Linked DNA regions of Homo sapiens: all the other regions are linked to region 3. The links come from fine-mapping of genetic effects on gene expression. A gene starts in region 3. Each other region holds a variant in brackets. All regions are shown on one strand. Distances are from middle to middle. Region 1 overlaps LOC105373215 (a long non-coding RNA gene). Region 2 overlaps LINC02768 (long intergenic non-protein coding RNA 2768). Region 3 holds the start of LYST (lysosomal trafficking regulator).

What was found. PIP is the estimated chance that this variant, and not a neighbour inherited with it, causes the effect. A credible set is the group of variants that fine-mapping cannot tell apart.
Region 1: its variant is the best candidate, but not a certain one, in a credible set for the expression of LYST in esophagus mucosa (GTEx, PIP 0.71).
Region 2: its variant is the best candidate, but not a certain one, in a credible set for the expression of LYST in whole blood (INTERVAL, PIP 0.66).

The regions. Positions count from the first base shown.
Region 1 is chr1:235,895,556-235,903,737 of GRCh38, forward strand. All of the region lies in intron 2 of LOC105373215 (a long non-coding RNA gene), which reads left to right. Among named protein-coding and RNA genes, the nearest start is that of LYST, 33 kb to the left of the region's middle. RefSeq lists a silencer at 7,560-7,760. The variant A/G (reference allele first, on the strand shown) is at 4,744.
Region 2 is chr1:235,939,406-235,947,587 of GRCh38, forward strand. The region is part of intron 2 of LINC02768 (long intergenic non-protein coding RNA 2768); the gene reads right to left. All of the region lies in intron 2 of LOC105373215 (a long non-coding RNA gene), which reads left to right. Among named protein-coding and RNA genes, the nearest start is that of LINC02768, 29 kb to the right of the region's middle. RefSeq lists a silencer at 7,233-7,302. The variant A/C (reference allele first, on the strand shown) is at 4,536.
Region 3 is chr1:235,862,830-235,871,011 of GRCh38, forward strand. LYST (lysosomal trafficking regulator) reads right to left here and starts at 4,077. Exons shown (of 53, transcript NM_000081.4): 1 at 4,014-4,077. It also overlaps the pseudogene RNU5E-2P. RefSeq lists enhancers at 3,135-3,184, 3,555-3,654 and silencers at 3,775-4,194, 4,245-4,544.

The DNA of each region.
Region 1 (8,182 bases), 33 kb after region 3:
ATGATGGATATGCTGATACTGTGATCTGATCATTATATATTATAAATATCAAAACATCACTATATACCTCATGACTATGTACAATTATTATTTATTAATTTAAAAATGTGAACTTCTTTTGATTTAGAAACATTAGACACAACAGATTTTTAAAAAACAGCAACAGGCCAGGTGCGGTGGCTCACACCTGTAATCCCAGCACTTTGAGAGGCCGAGATGGGCGGATCACAAGGTCAGGAGATCGAGACCATCCTGGCTAACATGGTGAAACCCCATCTCTACTAAAAATACAAAAAAAATTAGCCGGACGTGGTGGCGGGCGCCTGTAGTCCCAGCTACTTGGGAGGCTGAGGCAGGAGAATTGCTTGAACCCAGGAGGCAGAGCTTGCAGTGAGCCGAGATCGCACCACTGCACTCCAGGCTGGGCGACAGAGCAAGACTCTATCTCAAAAAATAAATAAATAAAATAAAATAAAATAAATAAAAAAATAAAAAAAAACAGCAACAACAAAATCTCCACATATGCCAATATCTGGAAATAACTCCTCTTAATATTTTGGCATAGACTCTTCCAGAATTTTTTCTATATGTATAAACATACATTTTACAAAATGGGATCATACCGTGCATCTTTGAGTAACCCCATTTTCTCACTATTTCACTCTTACAAATACTGACAAACAAGACTTTTTCAAACATCTTGGCTCAGTAGATCATTTATTTATTTATTTTTAGGATTCCTAAAACTGGACATGGTGGCTGTAGGAGGATGCGCCTCTTTCAGTCATTGGATTTCCCCTGGAAAGACAGAATGAATTCACATTCTCACCTGCAGTGGGTGAGAAGTCCCTTTTCCCCCACTTCCTTGCCAAAAATGGATATTATCATTCCTTTTCATCTTTGCCAGTCTGGAAGTTATGTGCAACTGAACACAAGAATTACAGAAGAGGCCGGGCGTGGTGGCTCACGCCTGTAATCCCAACACTTTGGGAGGCTGAGGCGGGCAGATCACTTGAGGCCAGGAGTTTGAAACCAGCCTTGGCAACATGATGAAAACCTGTCTCTACCAAAACACACACACACACACACACACTAGCCAGATATTGTGACACACACCTGTGGTCCCAGCTACTCGGGAGACTGAAGTGGGAGGATCACTTGAGCCCAGGAGGTTGAGGCTGTAGTGAGCTGTGATTGCACCTCTGCATTCCAGCCTGAGCAACAGAATGAGACCCTGTCAAAAAAAAAAAAAAAAAAAAAAAAAGGAGGCAGCTGGGATTTAAGAACCAATTCAGGGATAGAACAAAATTTGGGCTCCATCCCAACTCTGAAGCTCAGTTTCTTCAGCTGTAAAATGGGGTAAATAATAATCTTTCCAAAGGGAAAAGTTAAATAGCTTAATCCTAGTCCTAACCACCCCCAATGGCTCTCCCTTCTTCCCAAATTCCTTTTCAATCTTGTCTCCTCCCAGCAGCCTGAGTATTCCAATATGAATGTAAATCACATGACATGGTTTGTATCTGTGTCCCCATCCAAATCTCATGTCAAATTGTAACCTCAGCGTTGGAGGTAGGGCCTGATGGGAGGTGACTGGATCGTGGAGGCAGAGTTCTTATGAATGGTTTAACACAGTCTCCCCTCGGTGCTGTGTAGGGGTTAAGTTCTCTTGAAATCTGGTTGTTTAACCGTGTCCAGCACCTCCCTGTCTCTCTCCTCCTTCTGCTCTGGCCATGTGAGATTCATTACTCCCCTTTGCCTTCCACCATGATTGTAAGTTTCCTGAAGCTTCCCCAGAAGCTGATGCTGCCGTGCTTCCTGTACAGCCTGCAGAACTGTGAGCCGATTAAACCTCTTTTCTTTATAAATTACCCAGTCTCAGGTATTTCCTTATAGCAGCGCAAGAACTGCACTGATTAATACATCACACCACATCATCTCTGTCTTAAAGCTCTTGCTCAGCCAGCTGTAGTACTTAGAACAAAATCTAAACTTATCCTGGCTGACTTGGGTCCACCTGCTCTGTCTTTGCCTGCCCCACTGTAGATACTGTCGGGCTTTGCTTTCATTTGCCCACCTTTAAAAAATTATTATTGTTATTTACTTTTCAAATTTATTATTTTTTTTATTTTAAAATGTTTATATTTTTAGAGACAAGATCTTGCTTTGTTGCCCAGGCTGGAATGCAGTAGTGCGATCCTAGCTCACCGTCGTCTCAAACTCCAGGGCTCAAGCAATCCACCTGCCTCAGCCTCCCAAGTAGCCCAGCTAATTTTTTTTTTTGAGATGGAGTTTTGCCCTTGTTGCCCAGGCTAGAGTGCAATGGCAGGATCTCAGCTCACTGCAACCTCCACCTCCCAGGTTCAAGTGATTCTCCTGCCTCAGCCTCCCATGTAGCTGGGATTATAGGCAGGCGCTACCACGCCCAGCTAATTTTGTACTTTTAGTAGACATGGGGTTTCTCCATGTTGGTCAGGCTGGTCTTGAACTCCCGACCTCAGGTGGTCTGCCTGCCTTGGCCTCCCAAAGTGCTGGGATTACAGGTGTGAGCCACCACGCCTGGCCACTAATTTTTATTTTTTACTTTTTGTAGAGACAGGGTCTCATTATGTTGGCCAGTCTGGTCTCAGACTCCTGACCTCAAGCAGTTCTCCTGCCTCAGCCTCCCAGAGTGCTGGGATTACGTTGTGAGCCACTGTGTCCCGTCAGCCCACATTTTTGAGGCTGCACTGGCCTCTGGGTTTCTTGAATGGGCAGTCCCTCGGGCCTGTGTCCTGGGATGCTCCTCCTCCCTCTCTTTCCTGTCCTTGCCAACTTCAGCTTAAAACCACATCCTCAGGGAGACCTTCCCTGTCCTCCTGCTATTTTCTCTCCCACCATCCTGTTTAGTCCCTTCACAGGGACTTATTACTATGTGTAATGATACATTTCTTTGCTTACTTTTGTGTTTTGTCTCCCCACCACCTGGTAAGCTCAATGAGAGCAGACATAAGGCCTTCTGAGTTTGTTGCTATATCCCCCAGCACCTAGGTCTGCGCCTCATTGTACATGCTCAACAAATATTTGTTGAATGTGTGAAAATAAGTATTTCAAAATCAAGGCTGTTGGAACTTTAAAATATTATGAACCTTGAAGGAGTGTGATTATGGGACTCAAGTTACATAAATAGGCAGCTGTAACCTTTGTTTCTCTGATTATAGATTAGCCTTCTTTCTTACCCACATTGTTTTGTAAAATGTTGTAAATGACTGAAGGGTGCCAGGGAAGATCCCTTCCACCTTCACTATTGATCTTCATTATAGATTCACTTCCTTCTTACCTTTCTGACACAAAGACTTCATAACTATCTCATTGTCTAAGATGAAATGTTCTAATCCTACTAAATTTCTTTGTTTTCTGCCTGTATAAGCAAGACTTTAATTTTTTTTTTTTTTTTTTTTTTTTTGAGACAGAGTCTTGCTCTGTCGCCCAGGCTGGAGTGCAGTGGCGGGATCTCGGCTCACTGCAAGCTCCACCTCCCGGGTTCACGCCATTCTCCTGCCTCAGCCTCCTGAGTAGCTGGGACTACAGGCGCCCACCATTATGCCCAGCTAATTTTTTGTATTTTTAGTAGAGACGGGGTTTCAGCATGTTAGCCAGGATGGTCTCGATCTTCTGACCTCATGATCTGCCCGCCTCAGCCTCCCAAAGTGCTGGGATTACAGGCATGATCCACCACACCTGGCCGACTTTAACTTTTTTTACTTTAGATCACTGGCTCCACTTCTTTGAAGTCCGTGTTTCCTGGATGGCTATTCCTGGCTTTGAGCTCCAATAAACTCTATACCTAATCATATGTTCTAAATCATGTTATTTAAGGTTGACAAATGAATCAATAACTATTTCACTTTTCCACCAGTTTGGTGGTGGGTAAACCATAGCATGGTAACAGGGTGAGATAGCCACCAATTCTCTGTAACCCATCCTTCTGGGCTGCTCTCTTCCTGGTCTGAAATCTTCCCAGGCCATTTCTGATCTCTCTCATCCCGCATCCCCAAGTTGTTGATGGTATCACCTTCTGCAGCTCTGAAATGAAATATATGCTGTCTGGTACTGTTCTTTTAGTGTTGGAAGTGCCTCCTGCCACCTTAGGGAACTATATATGAGTTTACACTAATCTAGTTTCTTCAAATGGCACACTGTCTCAAGGGGGTGGGAGGGCTCAATAAATATTCATCAATTCAGCATTCATTTATTAAGTACCTACGAAGTACCAGTTATTATATTAAACACCTAGGATACAAATACAAATAAGGCACAGCATTTCCTAACTTCAGGGAGCTCACAGTCTAGGGAAGGGGGCACATAATTGTAATATTATGTAGCAATTGCAGTGGCTTGCTATGTAAAAGACAAAGGGCGCCAGGCACACTGGCTCATGCCTGTAATCCCAAGACTTTGGGAGGCCAAGGTGGGCAGATCACTTGAGTCCATGAGTTCGAGACCAGTCTGGCCAACAGCCCGGGGGTTTAGTAGAAACCCCATCTCTACTAAAAATACAAAAATTAGCCAGGTGTAGTGGTGCATGCCTGTAGTACCAGCTACTCAGGAGTCTGAGGCAGGAGAATCGCTTGAACCCGGGAGGCAGAGGTTGCAGTGAGCCAAGATCTCACCACTGTACTCCAGCCTAGGTGACGAAGTGACTCTATCTCAAAAAAAAAAAAAAAAAAAAAAAAAAGACAAAAAAAACACACAGGGGGGCCAGGC[A/G]CGGTGGCTCACGCCTGTAATCCCAGCACTTTGGGAGGCTGAGGTGGGAGATCAGGAGATCAAGACCATCCTGGCTGACATGGTGAAACCCTGTCTCTACTAAAAATACAAAAAATTAGCCGGGCGTGGTGGTGGGCGCCTGTAGTCCCAGCTACCCGGGAGGCTGAGGCAGGAGAATGGCGTGAACCCAGGAAGTGGAGCTTGCAGTGAGCCGAGATTGCACCACTGCACTCCAGCCTGGGCGACAGACCGAGACTCTGTCTCAAAAAAAAAAAAAAAAAAAAAAAAACAACCACACAGGGGAAGGATACTGAACCCAGTCTGAGGAAGAGGAGGAGGAGGAGGACAGCAGGCTTCCTGGAGAGGTGCCATCTGATCTGAGCGAGCCAGATAAAGAGGACAAAGGCATTAGCAGAAGAGGGAACAGTATCAGTCCAGGCCTGGATGGAGAGCAGCATTCTGTGGGCAAGGCAACAGTCAGCAGTTTAGTGTGGTTAGAAAATAAAGTGCAAGTCAGAAAGTGCTGAAAAATAAGTCAGTGAGATGGGCTGGTGCCTGTTCAGGGAAGCTGCTGAAAGTTAAGGTCAGCAGCTTGGACATTTCTGTAGAAAGAGATCACTGAACATTTTAGCCAGGAATGGGGTGGGAGGTGTTGGATTTGGGGAGGACGCATTTGGAGGCAGGGAGATCTGGTGAGATATGACCAGGATCTGCCCTGGGTCAGTGGTAATGAAGAGGGAGAGTCAGGCAATATGTTTAAGAACCTTTAAGAGGTAAAACTGGTAGGACTTGGTGATTGATTAAATGTGGAACAGATTGCAGAGAGAGAAAAAGAGAGAGAGAGAAGTCAGTAGCTTGAGTGACCTCATTATGATGGAATCCCATCGACAAAGAGAATACCAGGGAAGCGGTTTGGTGACATGGGGGACGTGAGGTGACACTTTGGTTTGGGATATGTTGAGTCTGAGGTGCTTTGGGGGATGTAGAAACAGCTTTGATTTTGAATTACTTATTGTTACAATATAATGGCAAGATGTATGGTTTGGGGATTAGCATCTCCCTTCACTGAGCTCACTTGTATTCAGCGGTTCGTATATTTCACCATGGTAGGTGCTAGGAGTGCCCCATCCAGGTCCCTTTTGCTGGCTGATGACAACTCACAGCCCCTCCTTCTCCTGGGAGTCAAGGCTCCCAAAAGGCAGTCTGGCCCAGACATACAAAAGCTCAGCCCCCTGCATCAAGGAGGCATTGCCTGTGTGGTGCACTTTGGGTTTCCCAAGCTCCCTGGAGGGATCAGCCTGAAGCTGGTCTCCAGATGAGACCACATCCTTCCTTGACTTTCCCCACCCTGTGCTCTCTTGCCTCCTCACTCGCCTCCTCCTGAGAACACTGCCCTGATGAATCACTTGCTCAAGAATCCTCCTGTTCTTGGGAACCCCACCGAAGACACAGGAGAAATTGGGCAATTGGGAGTTGGTTGGCCACAGTTTTAGGAATCCACAGTAAAGAGGGGGCTGAAGGTGAATTTTATTCCTCTGGACAGAGCTGATAGTGAAATGAATGATAGTGGGGTTGCCTTTATCCACAGTAGAAGGTCATTTGTGTTATTTTTATTGGTTTTTAGTTTATTAGTTTTATTAAGCCACAATTCTAAATCTCTGAGTCAAAAGCATTTGTCAAAATTCCTGCTTACGGACTATTAAAGTTCCTGAGTTTGGAAGGAGTTCTTTTTTCCTAAATTCCACGTTGCCCTTCCCTTCTTTACTCTTCATGTTTGAAATGATGTCACTGAAAGCAGGTGCTCTTTGGTGGTTGAGATGGACCCGCCTGTCACCCCTAGACTGGATCCATTTTCTCCCTTGAAACCTTGTAGTATCTTTTTGCTTCTCTAAAGTAGCAGTTCTGGGCACTGTCCATGGAATTGCCCATTTCTTGCCTGTTTAGTCAAAGAAGACTCGAGAACTGAGCATAATTCAGAGTTAACACAGCCTTCTTCTTTGTTATCTCATCGAAAAGTGCTTACAAAATATTTATTGAATGATAAAAATGAAAGATTAAATGAATGAGTGATCAATATTGCCCAACCAGGCAAGTTCCATATAAATGCAAATTGGCTTTCACTGTGCAATGTCCTTTCGCTGTATGTCTCTTTAATCTGTTTGCCCTATCGCCTCCAATTGGTGGCAAAGACTACATCTTCTATTTCCCTTTTATCCCTGCAATAGACTATAGAAATCGTGTTTGATGGAATAACTAATTAGTCAGTCAACATTTATTGATCGCCAACTATTTTAAGGGTATTTTAAAGATGGGGATTTAAAAATAAATAAAACACAGTGGTCTTTAAGGAGCTCATGATGGCCTGAGTATACAATTTGTTCTTAAATAGAGTGACTTGCTAAATGCATAAATGCATTTGATTTAATATTTATTCCTTTGTAAACTTCTCATAGAAATAAATTCACAAATAATTAAAACATCCTTTTGCAGATCACGTGACTGAATTTTGTCAGCAAATATGGCCGGCACGCCAATCAGGCTCTGGCTGTAAATGCAATCAATCCATTACTGCTTAGCTAAAAAGGCAAAGTTGCTGGTTCAAGTCCTACTGTGTGTACCTGCAGGGGAACTAAGGTCTCCACTGTGGGGTGTGTGTGAGTCTGAATCTAAATTGCAGGCTGGGAAGCTGACTTTAAACAGCATGCTTCTTTAAAGTTCTGAGAGTAGGTTCCTTGCTCCAGGCCTTGAAATGAAATCAAAGCTGGCTTTGGCCTTGGTTTTAGCTTTGGTCTAGTAATAGCCTGATAGGTACATCTACAGTAGCTTTTTTTTTTTTTTAATAACTCTTTCTCTTTAAAGACAGGAACACTTGGTATTTCTCGGTGTCTGTGAGGTGAGTCATGCATTTTATAGGCGCAGAAATTGAAAGAGGAGTGACTTGCGTATGGTCAGAGAGCAAGTCCAAGACTACGGTGAGTCCAGCACCACAGGGCCACCCAGAACTACTTGGCCTGCTGCCCATCCTCTTGTCTCTCCACTGCACTAGGCATAAATGTCAGTAAAGAAAGCAAGTGTGGCCCATTGAGAGAAAATGTGGCACAAGCCAAGAGTTCACAGCACTTGAAGTGGTAAAGGCAGATCCAGGTTGAGGCTCTGTTCTGCCCAGTTTATGATGAAATACTGATAGTGGATTTCTTCCTTTTCACCTGTTCCTGCCCCACTTGCCTGTCAAAGTCAGCCAGCACACTTTCCTCAGCAAATGGGTGGTAGGTTCTGGGCAAAACAATGTTATAATAAAAACAGAAAAGGTAAACCATGCCATTGGCTCTGACTGCCTTAAAGGGTTTTTGTCTCTAAGCTAGAAGACATGCTTTCTTGTACTTTCCCTGTCGAGATGGAGGCATTTCACTTGTCATCCATAGAAATTCTCCTACTTTGG
Region 2 (8,182 bases), 77 kb after region 3:
CAGCAGAGTGACAGGTACTGTTGATAAGCCTCTCGATAGACAGACTGACAGTCAATCAATATCTACTGACTCCTACTATATAGGGAGCTTTATACTGGCTTCTGAGAGATACTCATGGCTTCTCTCCCACAAAGAGCTTACGTTATTCTGTGAGCCATGACACATGTTCAAAACATGTAAGTAACAGTGCAAAACAAGAGTGGTAGAGTGTCAGGAAAAAATGCCATAGGAATCAGCAGAGGGAGAGCTTTCTATGAGGAACCCTGGTGGGGGAGGTTTCACAGGGGAGGTGAGCCTTGGAGGATGTATTTCATTCACACAGGTAGAGGAGGGCAGCCCTTGGAGACACTGTGAGGACAGAGTGTCAGTGCAGAAATGGCAGGTTCTGTGAGGACATAACAGGGTGTCTTGGGTGGAGGTATTTCACACTAGGAAATACTGAGCGTGAAGGCTGAATAGGGGACTTGGAATGTAGCCATTAAAAGAGGATTTTGGCCAGGTGTGGTTGCTCACCCCTGTAATCCCAGCATTTTGAGGGGCTGAGGCTGGAGGATCATGTGAGTCTGGGAGTTCGAGACCAACCTGGGCAACATAGCAAGACCCTATCTCTACAAAAAATTTAAAAAATTAGCCGGGCATGGTGGTGGACACCTGTGGTCCCAGCTATTTGGGAGGCTGAAGTGGAGGATCTCTTGAGTCCAGGAGGTTGAGGCTGCAGTGAGCTGTGATCGTGCCACTGCTCTCAAGACTGGGTGACAGGGTGAGCCTCTATCTCTAAAACAAAAGATAGCTTTAAAAATGTATAAATAATTTAATTTTTTAAAAATGAAGGGGGAATTTAACCTTTATGCAATTATGCTCTACAAGGTGGTTGGGGAGAACAGGGATGAGATGACACTGCCTGGGGAAGGTTAGTGTGGCTGCAAGGTGCTGGGTACATTAGACAGCAAAGAGCTGTGGGTCAGGGAGTGGATGAGCACCCAGAACTTGGTGCTGGCAGAGCGAAGAGATCAACCCGTTGGCTTCCCCACCCTCATTCTCCTCCCAACTGACCTGCAAGTCACAGCACTGCAGTATCATGTCGACACTCACTGCTGGGTACGTAGCTTAGGCTTTCACCACCCCACCACCCAACCCGGTTTCATCATCACGCTTCTGGCCCTTGGTCCCACTTCCCTGCCCTACTTATGGCTACCAGAATTCTCTGGCTATAAAACCAATGGTACCATGTCTTCATGCTACTTTAATACTCAGGCAACTCAATGTCTGTAGGATAAGTCCACACACCTTTGTAGGGTAGACGAGGCCCTTCAATGCCTGGCTGTGCCTACTCATGTTCCCCTCTCACCTTGCACCCTTGGCTCCAGACTGATGACCTCACAGTTCCTCCTAAAAACAATGTGTATGACCCACTGTGCATTTCTGGAGCTGTACCTTTGCAAACAGATTTCCTTCTTTGCAGAAAGTCTTTTCCTATTTGCGTTCCTACCTTTTCTTTGGGACTCACTTCAAACATATCATCTACCATCTATCATCAAACATATCAGCTACCTTCAGGAAGCCTCCCTTCCTTGATGCTCAGATTCCTGGCACTGAGAGCCTGTTGGCTCTTCCACTGTTCCTGTTCTGTCTTCACTTGTTTTTTTATTATTTATTTATTTTTGAGATGGAGTCTCACTCTGTTGCCCAGGCTGGAGTGCAGTGGCGTGATCTCAGCTCACTGCACCCACCACCTCCTGGGTTCAAACAATTCTCCTGCCTCAGCCTCCTGAGTAGCTGGGATTATAGATGCCCGCCACCATACCCAGATCTTTTTTGTATTTTTAATAGAGACGGCGGGGGGTCTCACCATATTGGCCAGGCTGGTCTCGAACTCCTGACCTCAGGTGATCCGCCCACCTCGGCCTCCCAAAGTGCTGGGATTACAGGCATGAGCCACCGTGCCTGGCTCCATTTGTTTAAATATCTGCTTCCTCTGCAAGTGGTGAGCCCAGGACCTGATTCTCATTCTACGTATTCCCAGGGCTTGATGGGACTCATTGTTCATAGGAAGGAGCTTGATAGTTGTTTGATGAATGAATGAGCAAGGGAAAAAGGATAAAGAGGAGCGAAAAAACGAAGCCGGGTTTTGGGGGTATTGGAGCAAATTAAGTGGGGGATACCATGTGGAGATGTGGCCCCATCAAGACCAACCCTGTCCCAAGAATGGCTCAGGTTTGCCTTGCTGGGGTCTTTGCTCCACTGTTACCAAACCCCCCACCCTCTGAATTGAGCTATGGGTTCCAGGAAAGGCACCCCTGTCCTGAGTTGACTGCAGCGATCACAACTGCAGACAATCATGATTCTTTGAATCCCTATTTTGATGTTAAAGCCAAGAAAGAGCATTATAGAAACTCAGGAAGAGAAAATAAATTTAGCCATCATCCCACGACCCCGGTACAATTACTATTATTTTTCCATTTTTCTTCCAGTCTTTTTCCTTATGTCTATAGCTTTAATTATGTTTTTCTGTATGAAATATAAGCAGGAAATGGAAATTTTCTAAAGGACTTCTTTTATTTGCCTCCCACTGTTTTGCATACAATGGACACTTAACACATAACTTTAGGCAGACTGAGGCGTCTCCTGATGAAAAGCTTTTCTCAAAGGCCATGTGGTTGCTGCAATGAGCCTTCTAGAGGAAGCTGGTTATAACCTCTCTCCATCACGTCCAGCCCTCTCTTTCCCGCCTGGCTCACACACTTGCCTTCCTTTAAATAATATTTTTCATTCCTCCAATCAGTCATTTGATCAACAAACATTTAGTGGGCGGGAACTGTCCCTAGGCCCTGGGCTGGGCCCTGTATTTACCGCCCTGTGGTTCATCAGCCCTCAGCCTGGTGCATCCACGCTGGTATCAACCTGATGGCCCCAGAAGCTTCTGAAAACTCATGAGCTTTCCTGATGGTTTATCCCTCAGGCCTTCTCCAACTCAAACTAAGGTCTGCGTGTACCTTGGCCCCTTCTTTTGTGCTTGTTGTACCCAGAAGCAAAATAATTGTCTAGCTGTCCCAAGAACGGCCAACCGTTGAGATTGTGTCAGCGAGTCTTTGTTCAGTTCCTATAAAGGATGGCCTATTAGGTAATACATCCATTCCAGATGGAAAACAGGCCTTTCGAAAGCCCGAAATAACCTATTGCCACATCCCCCTTTGAGCCCACAAATGGTTCTTTCACTATGAAAGAACAAACTAACTAGAGCCTCAAAAATGTCTTTCCTAGCTTTAATAAGTGGGGATTCTGGCCTCGGGGTCATACAAGGATGATCACACATGAGGAAAGCTCAAATGAACAGAGTTATGCCAGAGATGGCTGGCCTGGGCAAAGCTGGCATTGCTCTCGGAGGGAAGCCAAGTTTTTCCAATTGTTATTCTTGTGCCATAGGGCAGATCAGCTGGGGTGGGCCGGTGAACGCTGCACTGTCACATCACGATGCTTGGAGCAAGGGGTTGCTTGAATGGAGGCAAAATGCTGCGTTGACTTAGGAGGAAATCATCTTAAACCCTGAGATCTGAAGAGCTATGTTTAGCTGGGAAGTGATGGAGCTCTTCAGCTTCTTCATAAACTCACAAACCCAGGATGAGGCTAGAAGAAAGTCAGATTTCTTATCTGCCAGAACTCTTGCTGGGAAAGATGTCACCAAGGTATTCCCCAACATTACCAGGCCTTCTGTAAAGCACCTTCTTCATGCTCCCGGGCCCATCACACACATGCACATACACGTACACACGTACACACACATGCACATGTGCACATGTATACATGTGCTGTTATGGGCTGAATCTCATCCCCTTCCCAAATTTATATGCTGAGTCCCTAATCCCTAGTCCTTCAGAATGCAACCTTATTTGGAAATAGATTCTTAAAGAGGTAATTATATCAAAATGAGATCTTGAGGGTGAGTCCTAATCCAGTCTAACCAGTGTCCTTATGCAAAGAGGAGATCAGGACATGAACACGCACAAAGAGAAGGCCTTGTGAGGACACGGAAAAGACAGCCATCTGCAAGCCCAGGAGAGAGGCCTCAGGAAAAACCAACCCTGCCAACACCATGATCTTTTAAAAAAATTATTCGTCTTTTTAGTTGAGATAAAATATACATATATAACTTACCATCCTTACCATTTCAATACCATGATCTTGGCCTTCCAGCCTCCAGACTGTAAACTAATAAATTCCTGTGGTTTAAGCCACGCTGTGTGTGACGCATCGTGATGATACCCAAGCAGACTGACATACACACTCACACAAGCTCACATATTCACACACGTACTAATACACACCCTCACCCAAAAACACTGACACACAGAAGCACTCACACACACAGATGCACTTACACTCGGTTCTCACCCTCCTGTGTCACCCACACAATCCTTATCCCCCCATCCCTGACACACACATGCTCCCTGAGGCCAGACACGTGGACTGTTGTGGCTCAGGACCTCACTGAGGCCAGTTCTCTTCCGGAGCACAGCAATGGTTTGCTGTCTGCTAAG[A/C]TCATTCCTCTCGCTGGAACCTTGGGTCCGTCCCTGGGGCTCATTGCCTGGAGTGTGGCTTTTTGCATCCTCACATTTCCTGAATGCTGTACTTTGTTTTCCTGTCTCCCAGCTTGGATCTCCTGACCTTGGCCTGGACCTGGATCTGGGAGGCTGACTCTATTGACCATGGGGAAGGAGCTAACAGGATTGAACCTCAGGACCGTCCTCTGCAAAATGAGGAATTTAGGCTAGCACAGTGGTTCTCAAAGTGTGGTCCCCAGACCAGCGACCTCAGCATCGCCCTGGAACTAGTTAGAAATGCACATTCTCTGGTCCCAACCCAGACCTACTGAACCAGTGCCTCTGGGAGTGGATCCCAGAAATCTGTGTTTTAACACACGTGCTATCTAGGAGGTTCTGATGCAGGCCAAAGTTCGAAAACCGCTGAACTGGAAGATCTCTAAAATTCCTCCTAGGAGATAAACCTTTAAGACTTGCTATAAGAATTAAGTGCCATGATTATGGTGCATATTATTTATGAAACTTGTTCAATGTGCCCTGCCCTTCCTATTCATTATCTCTACAACCTCCTTCTAAAATAAGTATCAATTAAAAGTATTTTCCAAATGAGCAAAAGGAGGCCCGGAGAGGTTAAATAATTCATCAGGAGACACGCAGCTGGAGATGAACAGGAGGAGGATTTGAATGGGAAGCCATCTCAGTGTGCTCTCTCTACTACCTCCCATGAGCAAACACAGTGACAAGTGAACTCAATGAATATCATTTTCCGGTGATTCTGTGACCTTTGAGTACCTGCATCCTCCTACCTTAACCAACTTTGCCAGCCTCCTTCACTGCCCTACCTGATCGACAGTAATTTCCAGCTCTCTTCCTTCCCCCATGCTCAGCCCAACACCCAGCCCTGGCTTTCTCACCTTCCTGGGACCCCCTGCGTTCCACGGTAGTGAACAGAGACACACGACAGCCATTCCGTGGATCTACAGTGACTGTTCTCCTGGACACAGAGCCAACGTGGCTACTGAAGGAAAGAGGCCAGTCCTAAGTTCAGGATCTGTGACGGCCTGGAAAATGTACTCTGTCCCCCCACAACCTCCCGCTACAACCTCCCCCTAAAAGAAAAACTTTCTACAGGTGATGTTGAGATTGCCACAGGCTTTGGTCCTCACAGACTGCAAATACCTATGGGAGAAAGAATGCTTCCACAGAGGAGCGCCGAGGGGAAGGAGAGCACCTCACTGGGATGGGATGGGAGTGGGGTGACAGCACCGCCCAGAGGCATACAAGCTGGCCTCTCTCTGGTTTTGTGGAGGCGGCCCTTGCTGGTATCCTAGAGTTGTCTCCCTGGCCTGCTTAGCAACGCACAGCTCCTAGGGGCCATCACCCACTAGGAGGGCAGGGCCTTTTGTCTTTTTTTTTTTTTTTTTTTTTGAGACAGAGTCTCTGTCTATCACCCCAGCTGGAGTGCAGTAGCATGATCTCGACTCACTGCAACCTCCGCCTCCCGGGTTCAAGCGATTCTCCTGCCTGCCTGAGCCTCCTGAGTAGCTGGGATTACAGGAGTACGCCACCAAGCCCGGCTAATTTTTTATTTTTAGTAGAGATGGGGTTTCACCATGTTGGCCAGGCTGGTCTCAAACTCCGGACCTCATGATCCACCCACCTTGGCCTCCCAGAGTGCTGGGATTACAGGTGTGAGCCACTGCACCCGGCCAGATTTTTGTCTTTTTACTGTTGTATCTCCCCACATAGTAAGTGCCTAATCAATTGAGTTGAATAAATGAATTCTTGCCCCATCTACCAGATTCTACCTCAGGGGCAGCTTCACACACACATACATACACACACACACACACATACCTACACACACACACACACACACACACATACATACACACACACATATGCATGTGCACTCAGGCACACACGCATGTGCTCACTCACACATGTACTCATGTTCTGGGGCCGGCACAGAGGCTGGGGGAGAGTAAGGAAGTGGGGAGGGGCATCTTTGGCAGGGGAAGGGTGCTGGTAGGACAAGAGCAAAGCGCAGAGGGACTGAGGGGTGGTGAGAACGGATCTTCTCACAGTTGAGGCCTGTAAAAAAAAAGAAACCACACGGAGGCTGAGGGCAAAGTGCCCTAAATTGGAAGTCTGGCCTAAGATCTGACGATGAATGGTTTTCAAACTCTGGAGGCGGTCTGCTTACGAAAACTCTTGTTTGCACTGAGTATACAGAAAGGGCACTGAGTGGGGCAAAGATGGCCCCACATGCTTGAACTTGCCTGTGAGTCTGGACTCAGACCCAGTTGTAGGGTGGACCTGTGGGCGGGGCTAATTTTGTAGTGTCCAGAAGAGCACCAAGGGAGTTTTTGTGAATTGGACTTCCACCCTAAGCGATACTAGGTTTAGTTCCATTTTCCGTCTGGAGAGAAGTCCTTTGCAGCATTTCGTTTGGCGGAAGAGTTTTGCATAATATTTCACACAGTGTTCCTTGCACAAGCTTTCATTACCCCATGACCAGGCTAGGGACTCCCCGCCTTCTATGACCAGGTGAAGAGTGAGTCTCCTACTCCAAGCTCCCCCTGTTCGCCTGGTTTTGATGCCCTGTTTCAGTGCATCATCTGGTAATTTCGTGACCTGCAATCGGCAGAGTGGGCTCGACTCATCTTCTATTTCTATGCTGCCCACTGTGTCCTTCTGAAAGGGCTGAGCCCTGGGTCTGGTAATTTTGGACTGTCTGCAATTTGGAATGGGTGTGTCACTACTGCCCTCTAGAACCAGGTCTTGGTTATTGATTGCAGCTCCCAGAAAGGAACCCTGCAAACACAACCCTTGGTTAAGGCAGGCAGTCTGTCTTCTCCTTTTCAATAATAACTTCATGTTTGAGGTTAATAAGTGGAGGTTCTTTAAAGGGCACACAATTGAGGCCCCACACTCCGCTAGCTGCTTTCCCGTGAGAACTTCCAACAGGGCTGTGGTTTGCTGTTTATAGAGAAGGGGTGAAGAGCCAGGGCTGGAATGTGCATTATAAATGACAACGTAGGCCAAGCATGGTGGTTCACATCTGCAATCCCAGCACTTAGGGAGGCCGAGGTGGGAGGATTGCTTGAGCCCAGGAGTTTGAGACCAGCCTGGGCAACATGGTGAAACACTGTCTCTACTAAATATACAAAAAATTAGCTGGGGATGGTGACGCATGCCTGTAGTCCCAGCTACCTGGGAGGCTGAGGTGAGAGGGATCACCTGAGCCTGGGAGGTTGAGAACTGCAGTGAGCTATGATCGCACCACTGCACTCCAGCCTTGGTGACAGAGTGAGACTCTTTCTCAAACAAACAAACAAACAAAAGATGGCAATGTACAGTTGCTGGACAAACTGCCTCACTGGAATTCAACCTTGGAGAAGTGATGGATTTTTCTTAGTGTTGGCAGAGCCGTATGGTTAGCATGCTCCTCTGCCTCGTGTTTTCGTTTAAGTCCTCGTGCTTTCCTCCTTGTCCTAAAGTAGTCAGGGACCAAGTTGCACAGTCTCTGCATCCTCCATGATACCTGACACAGTGTCTGGAACAGAGAAGTTGCTCAATAGGGAATTTTCTTTCTTCTTTCTTTTTTTTTTTTGAGACAGAGTCTCACTCTGTTGCCCAGG
Region 3 (8,182 bases):
CACACACACACACACACACCCCTTCAAGATAAAGTGAGACTACCATAAAACCAACCACTTCTGCTCGGCTCATGAGAACACTTGTTCTATTTTATAAAATGAGGTGTTGCCTGATTCTACAATGGCAAAGGTGAAGTAAGATCTTTAAGCTAAATTTGTTGTAATTTTGTCTTTTGACATTACAAAGTATTAAAAATGAGTCATTTCCTTTGTAATTTTGCAAATGGCCAAGTAAAGCCACACTTGATAACATTTTAGGGCTTAAAAAAAATCTTGAACTTGGCCCAGCACGGTGGCTCACGCCTGTAATCCAGGCACAGTTGGGGGCCGAGGAGGGCAGATGATGAGGTCAGGAGATTGAGATCATCCAGGCTAACACAGTGAAACCCCATCTCTGCTAAAAACACAAAAAATCAGCCGGGTGTGGTGGCACACACCTGTAGTCCCAGCTACTCTGGAGGCTGAGGCAGGAGAATTGGCTGAACCTGGGAGGTGGAGGTTGCAGTGAACCAAGATCTCGCCTCTACACTCCAGCCTGGGTGACAGAGCGAGACTCTGTCTCCACGGAAATCTTTAGTAAAAGGCGAAAGATTTATACAATTTGAAGAGAAACCAGAGAATGACTCTGTCTAAAAAAAAAAAAAATGTTGAACTTAAGCCGGCAACCAGATAATTCAGGAAAAGATTAATCAGATGAAGGTGTTCAAGTTAAATACAGCAACAGACCAAAAAGGTACTCTGAAATTCCAGACTATATGGCTCTCTCTACAACCGAAGCTAACAAACACACTATGTGAGTGCAATCAAACAAAAATAAAACTACAATTGGGAAAAGAATGACTAGGTTGGTCCAAAAGAATTAAGAAGAAAATAATCATGAAATCAAAGCTGGCAGTTTATGGGTGAAATTTTTAACCCCCTGGTATAGTCAAGGTAACGTAAAAAGTGTCTTCAAAACAAAGTCACTTGTGTTTACTACTAATAATCTCAGCTTTGACAAAAATTCTTTGCTTGGCCAAACTTACTCAGGCTTTTGAATTTTCTGTGAGGCCCATCTGTGCACTTCCTTGTAAAATCCAGTATTAGCAAAGAACCCTGCTAAGTCTGTTTAGCATAACATCCTGGATATCTAATCATCCTAAATATCTGATCAGGTTCCTCATCCTCCACCATTCCCCAGGTAATGTCTGATCGCCCTGGCCTGTCTTCAGCAAGAATCCCGTTAGGTCGGCTTAGCCAGAATCCCCCTTATCCCTGATGTTTCCTTTTAGCAATTTTCCATCCACGATCCCCACACTGCTGCTTGGCTATAAATTCCCATTTTCTCATGCTGTATTCGGAGTTGAGCCCAGTCTCCCTCCCCTACTGCAGGGCCCCACTGCAGAGGTCTCTATACCTATTGAGATGGTTCTGAATAAAGCCTTACTTACCATTCTTAAACAAGTATCATTGAATATTTTTTTCTTTAAAAACGTGAATGTCTAATTTTATTGTCTTCTAACCAACTCCCACCCTTCTCCCCACCAAACCTACTCCTCTCGTAAACCTAATCTCAGTAAACAAGTACCCCATCTTTCTACTTGTTCGGAACTAAATTTTGGTGTCTTTTACATCTCTACCCTCAATTTATCCTGAAATCAATGACCTCTCACCACCTCCACCAATTCCACTCTGGTCCAAGCTACATTATCTCTGGCCTGGATTAGGGCAACAGTTCCGGATTGGTATCCCAGCTTCTGCTCCTGCTCAACCCTTCCCCTACAACAAAGTCTATTCTCCATCCAGCGCCCAGAATGATCATTTTTAAAAGGCAAGCCTGGGGCCGAGCGCAGTGGCTCACGCCTACAATCGCAGAATGTTGACACGCCAAGGTGGATGGATCGCTTGAGCCCAGGAGTTTGAGACCAGCCTGGGCAACAATGGCGAAACCCCATCTTTACAAAAAATTAGCCAAGCATGGTGGGTGATGTGTGCCTGAAGTCCCAATTACTTCAGAGGCTGAGGTGAGAGGATCACCTGAGCCTGGGAAGTCGAGGCTGCAGTAGGTTGTGATCATGCCACTGCACTCCAGCCTGGGAGACAAAGTGAGATCCTGACTCAAAACTAAAAATAAAAGGTAAGGTTCTTTACTCAAAGAGTGGACTCCCCTTTCCACTGAGAGTAGAAACTCAAGTCCTTAAAAGGGCCTACAAGGCCTTATACAGTCTAATCTCCCACCACACTCACCTCTTTGACTTTATTTCTACTCCTCTTTGCTTTTTCCACCACAGCCAAATCAGCCTCTCTGCTGTCCTCAAACAAGCCCAGCACACAGGGCTTCTGCAAGCCCTTCTGCCTTCCTCTCTGCTAGCACATCCTTCCCTCAGAGAGGTACATGGATTACCCCTCACTTACTTCTGGTCTTGGCTCAAATGATATCTTTTCTAGGAAGCTTTCCCTGGCTGCCTCTAGTTAAAATTGCAAACCTCTCCCGGTTCCCTGCCCTCCCTCTTCCCTGCCCTCCCTCTTCCGTGCTTTTTCTCTGTAGTACTTAACACCATCTGACACAGCACATATTTTATTTGTTTATTATCTGAGGTCCCCACTAGAATATAAGCTCCATGAAGGAGCAGATATTTATGTTTTCTTAGAAAAGTATCTGACACGCAGTAGGTGCTCAATAAATATTTACTAAATACATATATATAATTATATAGTTTGTGAAGTATTTTTATGCAAATTACAGCAATTCATTTTTCCTTATGCCCTCTCTTCTTCAAATTCTCCAATCTTTGTAGTAACAATATGGATGACAGCAAAGAGCTATCAGAAAAAGAGTTGTTGGCCACTTAACAAAGCTCTTTAAAACAGATACCCCATATTAATCAACTACATCTATAAATTGAAAGCTTAAAGTCAACATCTTTATTAGCATAGATGAATCTAGGCGTGGAATTTTAAAATAATAGCGCAGAAGAGCCAAGAATCATCAGGAAGAAAAGTCTAATTCAGTTTGTCCTATCAATCTGTTAAACAAACAATAGGAAAATGCAACCTGCATTTGATCTTCAAGGAAACACTGGCCCAAATTCAACACGAACGCATTCAACACAAGATTCGACTCCCTTAAAATTTTCTATCTGCTTAAAACAAACCCCATTAACTATCAAGTGCCGTCGCTGGGTGTGTATGGTCTGCCGAGCGGATCGGGGATGTTTTGCTATGTTTTGTTTAACCAGATAAGAATTAGCGTTAAGGAAACGTTTCTTAAAGCCTCTGTATCCCCTGGACCATTAAACAACCCCTTCGTTGGGCTTTACACTGTGGTACCGGGGTCTTCTCGGGTAATTTCCCAGCTTATTTAACTCATCAGAAGCGAAGGGGCATCTCAGTCAGGCTCCAGTGATACCGGAGACAGACGGCAGATGTCTCAGGGGATCCCCTGGAAAGAGAGGCTCTCGCCCAGTCAAAGGGTGTCACGGACAGGAGGAAAGAGCGGACCGAGGCGCACGGTGTAGGTGACAGGTGGGCGAGCGCCGCAGGGCAACAGCGCGGGGAGTGACCGGCTGGGTGGTGGCGCGGAAACCGTCAACTCCCATCGTCAACCTGACAGCTTGGGCCCAGCTGGGCTGAGTAGTGCAGCGGCACAGGATCAAAAAATAAAATAAAGGTAGCAACACACCGCCGTCAGCCTGCTCGACCTCGCCCCCCGCGCGCTGCGAAATAAAGTTAGTGCCCAGTGGCCGCTGCAATGGCCCAGAGGGGCCCAGCCGAGCTCCCGCCCGCGGCCCGGCGGCTGTCAAAGGCGGCCCGGCGCCGCGAGAAGTCCCAGAGCCCAGAAGCCAGAGAGGACGCCCCGAGCTGGCGCGTCAGGCCGAGTGCCCTCGCGCCCTCGCGCCCTCAGCCCGGCGGTCCCGGCCCTCAACCCAGGCTGACAGCCACCAGCCCCAAACCGCCTCCCCTCCAGGCCACGCAGAGGGGCCGGGACCCGGAACCTTCTGCCGGCAGCGTCGGCGCCCGGCGGCCGCCTTTACCTGGTTTGTGGCAGCTGCGGCCGCCGCGCACTCCCCCTCTCCCGGAGAACCCCGAGCCGACGCCGCTGCCGCCGCCGCCGCGCACTCCCCACCCCCGCCCGCCCAGGTAACCCAGGAAACCGAGAACACCACCCCCTCCCTCCCCTCGTCCGGACCCAGACCCGCTCGTCTGCGCGTGCGCCCTTGGCTCCGCCTCGCGCGTGTAAGCCCCGCCTCCTCTGGGAGGGCAGCGCCGGCGTCGCAGGCGTGACGCGTGGAACTGCCGAGCCAATAGGGAAGGCAGGGGGGCGGGCCGACCCGCGGGGCTGCAGCCGGGGCCCGGTCTGGGTTTCTCAGCGGTCGGGGGTCGTACCCTGGGTCCGCACCTCCTCCCAGGGCTCTGCGTAGTGGGCTGCGTCAGACCCTGGGGAGTGCGAGCACCGTTTGAGAAGCACCAAACACAAGCGCATCGTCCGCCTCTTCCATTCAACACAGACTGTCAACCTGTCCCATTGTGTAGGTCTAGAGGATGAAGATAGAAGAAATAACGGGAAGGAGTCAGGAGAGGGAGAAAGGGTTACCCACAAGGCACCCCTAGCCTTCCTCTGGGACCTGGAAAAAGCCATATTGTAATGGTTACCGTCGGCTTCTTTCAAGAAACAAAAAGAGCTTTGCAAAGCCACTGCAGAAGTAATTCAGTGCAGTGGTGTATTTTCCAACCGACTCCTGTTCAAACACGGTTTGTATACAGTGCGCACTGTCAGTGTCATATGCCCTAATAGACCAGTCCCTCCAGAGGGTGGGAGCTGTAGGTAAAATCCAGGATGTTTTGGCTGCATCCCCGGCTCTGGGCCCAGCACGCTGCTGGCAGACTGCTGCGGTAGGCAGTTTGGCATTTCAAGGGCCACCCTCCTCACCTCCTAGTCACTGAGACAGCAACGCCAGAGGTACTGGGAAAAAGCCTGAACTGTAATCGTTCGGTAGTTTTCAAGTTCTGCCAAACAATACAAACTATTAATAAGCAGATAATCTACAAATTGACAGGAATTGCTGTAGAATCAACAACTCCCATAATTTTTTGCACAGGAATTATGAAATAGAAATAATTCAGGATATTATGTCCCAAGCCTATATACCAAATGTTACTCCCAATTCCTCAAACTCCCATCTAACCCAATGACAAGCAAAGTGCGTTAAGTTGCCCACTGATGTGGTTTAGAGGGTGCTCTTGGGGAAAATTCCCCACTTTAAAATATGTCTTCTCTGACGTCTGATGTTTAACCATTAGCAGTTCATATCTTTAGGCGAAGATTGCCCACTTCCTCTGGCAGGTAGTCTTTTATTTTTATTTTTTATCTTTTTTTTTTTGAGACAGATTCTCGCTCTGTCGCCCAGGCTGGAGGGCAGTGGCCGGATATCGGCTCACTGAACCCTAACAAGTGCAGGAAATAAATGTCTCAGGGAACTTATCACTCATTTAAGCAGTATATAATGAGCACCTACAATGCGCTAAGTATTGTGCTAGGTGCATGGGCCTGAACTGAAACAAAAAGAGGAAGCCAAACTTAACCTGTTTCGTCATTTTACCTAAAGCTGTGTCTACTCTTATTTATACATCAACTTTCACCCACTAATCTTAAAAACACCCCCCTTTTTTAATGGACAAAAGAAGTCAAAGAAATATTAAGTAACAAGCCAGTTTCTGTTAACCTTGAGTAGAAAATAATAGATTATCATGATTTCATTAAAGCAAAGAAAATGAGACAGACTTTAGATGATAATGGTATACAATTGGCCCTCAAAGTATTATTTGTTTGTAAAAGGCACAAAGTAATGCCATTTGTGACTATTATTTTTTTCGGTACCAGTGTTTTTTATTTTATTTTATTTTCAAGATGCAGCTTCACTCTTTTTCCCTGACTGGAGTGCAGTGGCACAGTCTCGGCTCACTGCAACCTCCGCCTCCCGGGTTCAAGTGATTCTCCTGCCTCAGCCTCCCAAGTAGCTGGGATTACAGGAATGTGCTACCATGCCCGGCTAATTTTGTATTTTTAGTAGAGACAGAGTTTCATCATGTTGGTCAGGCTGGTCTCGAACTCCTGACCTCAGGTGATCCACCCACCTCTACCTCCCAAAGTGCTGGGATTACAGGCATGAGACACCGCTCCTGGCCTCGGTTCCAGTATTTTAACTAAGCTACTGCAGTATGTATTTTATTCAATAGTATCTTAGAACATCGATACTAAATATACATATCAAATAAAACTTAGTTTAAAAGATTTCCTAGGAACACACACAAAATGTGTAGTGAAGAACATGAAAAAGAAGAAAAAAGTAAAGTAATAGGTATATAGAAGAAAGCTCTACTTGGCCGGGCGCAGTGGCTCACGCCTGTAATCCCAGCACTTTGGGAGGCCGAGGCGGGCAGATCACGAGGTCAGGAGATGGAGACCATCCTGGCTAACACGGTGAAACCCCGTCTCTACTAAAAATACAAAAAATTAGCCGGGCGCGGTGGCGGACGCCTGTAGTCTCAGCTAATCGAGAGGCTGAGGCAGGAGAATAGCGTGAACCCGGGAGGCGGAGCTTGCAGTGAGCTGAGATAGCGCCACTACAGTCTGGCCCGGGTGAAAGAGCGAGACTCCGTCTCAAAAAAAAAAATAATAATTAAAAAAGCTCTACTTACGCATGTATCACATGCTGGAAAACTTTTTAAGCAGGAAAGTCTTCAGCTAATTTGACTCCAGAATTATAATCTTCAATGAGATTGTAACATCCCAGCTTAAAACAACACAGTCAACGTAAATGTGCATAATTTCACATTTAATTATTCTCCAAAACACCTTTAAAAATTATTTGTGACTAAATGGATATATAAATCAAATCATGTCACATCTCTGCTCAAAAATCTGCATTGGCTCTCCGCTTCTCTCAGATAAAAGCCAAAGTCCTTACAATTGGCCTACAGAGCTCTAACACCATCTGGCTCCTCAAAACTTCGTCTCTTTCTACTCTCCCATCACTACCTACATACCTGCTTCTTTACTGTTTACCAAACATGCCAGATACAGTCCTGCTTTAAGGGCTTTGCACTGACTGGCCGGCCCCTCTGCTTGAAATTTGTTTTCTCCACATGGCTGCAGTTGTTAACTCCTTTATCTCCTCCACGTCTTTGCTCAAATTTCACCTCTCAATGAGGTCTACCCTTAATACTGCCCTTAAACTAGGCAAGAGGGGCCTCTGCCCTGGACCCCACACATGAATGGACCTCATCTCACAAATGTTCCCTAAAACAATAGTATTAAAAAACATGTATGTTCTCTGTCCCTTCTTGGGGGGTGTGGGGAGGTGGGTGGCATTGGTGAGAGTTGACACAGTTGTTAAATCAAGTTTAGCCTAAAGCTGCCTCCTTGCATATTTTAAGTTCAGCCTAAAGGTTTTTCTGTACATCATGAGCTATAACAAATGAAGGTGTAAACAGGCCATAGCCCACACCTGTGTCAATCCCTGAGTTTTGGCCAATCAAATGTAGCCAACTGTTTGAACTGTGTTCTAATAAAGCAAACGCTGAGCTGCAACCAACCCAGTTGTTTCTGTACCTCACTTCCATTTTCTGTATGTCACTTTCCTTTTGCTGTCCATAAATCTCCCACCGTGTGGCTGCGCGGGAGTCTCTGAGCCTACCTTGGCTCAGAAGGCTGCCTGATTCACGAATTGTTTTGTGCTCAATTAAACTTTAAATTTAATTTGGCTGAAGTGTTTCTTTTATCACAGTGTAACCTGTAACTCTAAACATCATCTCTTTCATAGCACCCATCAGCTTCTAACATACTACATAATTTGTCTATTTCTTATGTTTATTTTCATTGTCACCCCTGTTTAGACTATGGGCTCCACAAGGGCCACAATCTTTGTTCTATTTCTGATGTATCCCAAGGACCAGAACAGTGCCTGGCACTTAGTAGGCACTCAGTAAATATTTGGATAAATAGTTAAATTAAGAAAATTTTGTTGAAAATTCAAATAAATATCCAAACAGTAAGTTGACCATAATTTTGGAGCTGGACAATCTTAATGCCTACTGCAATGCATGGGAACAGAAATGGATTTGTGAAGTGGTAGAGGAATACAAGACTGCGATTTCAGCAATAGTAAGAAGGTCAGAATTATACAGATGAATAAAATTATGC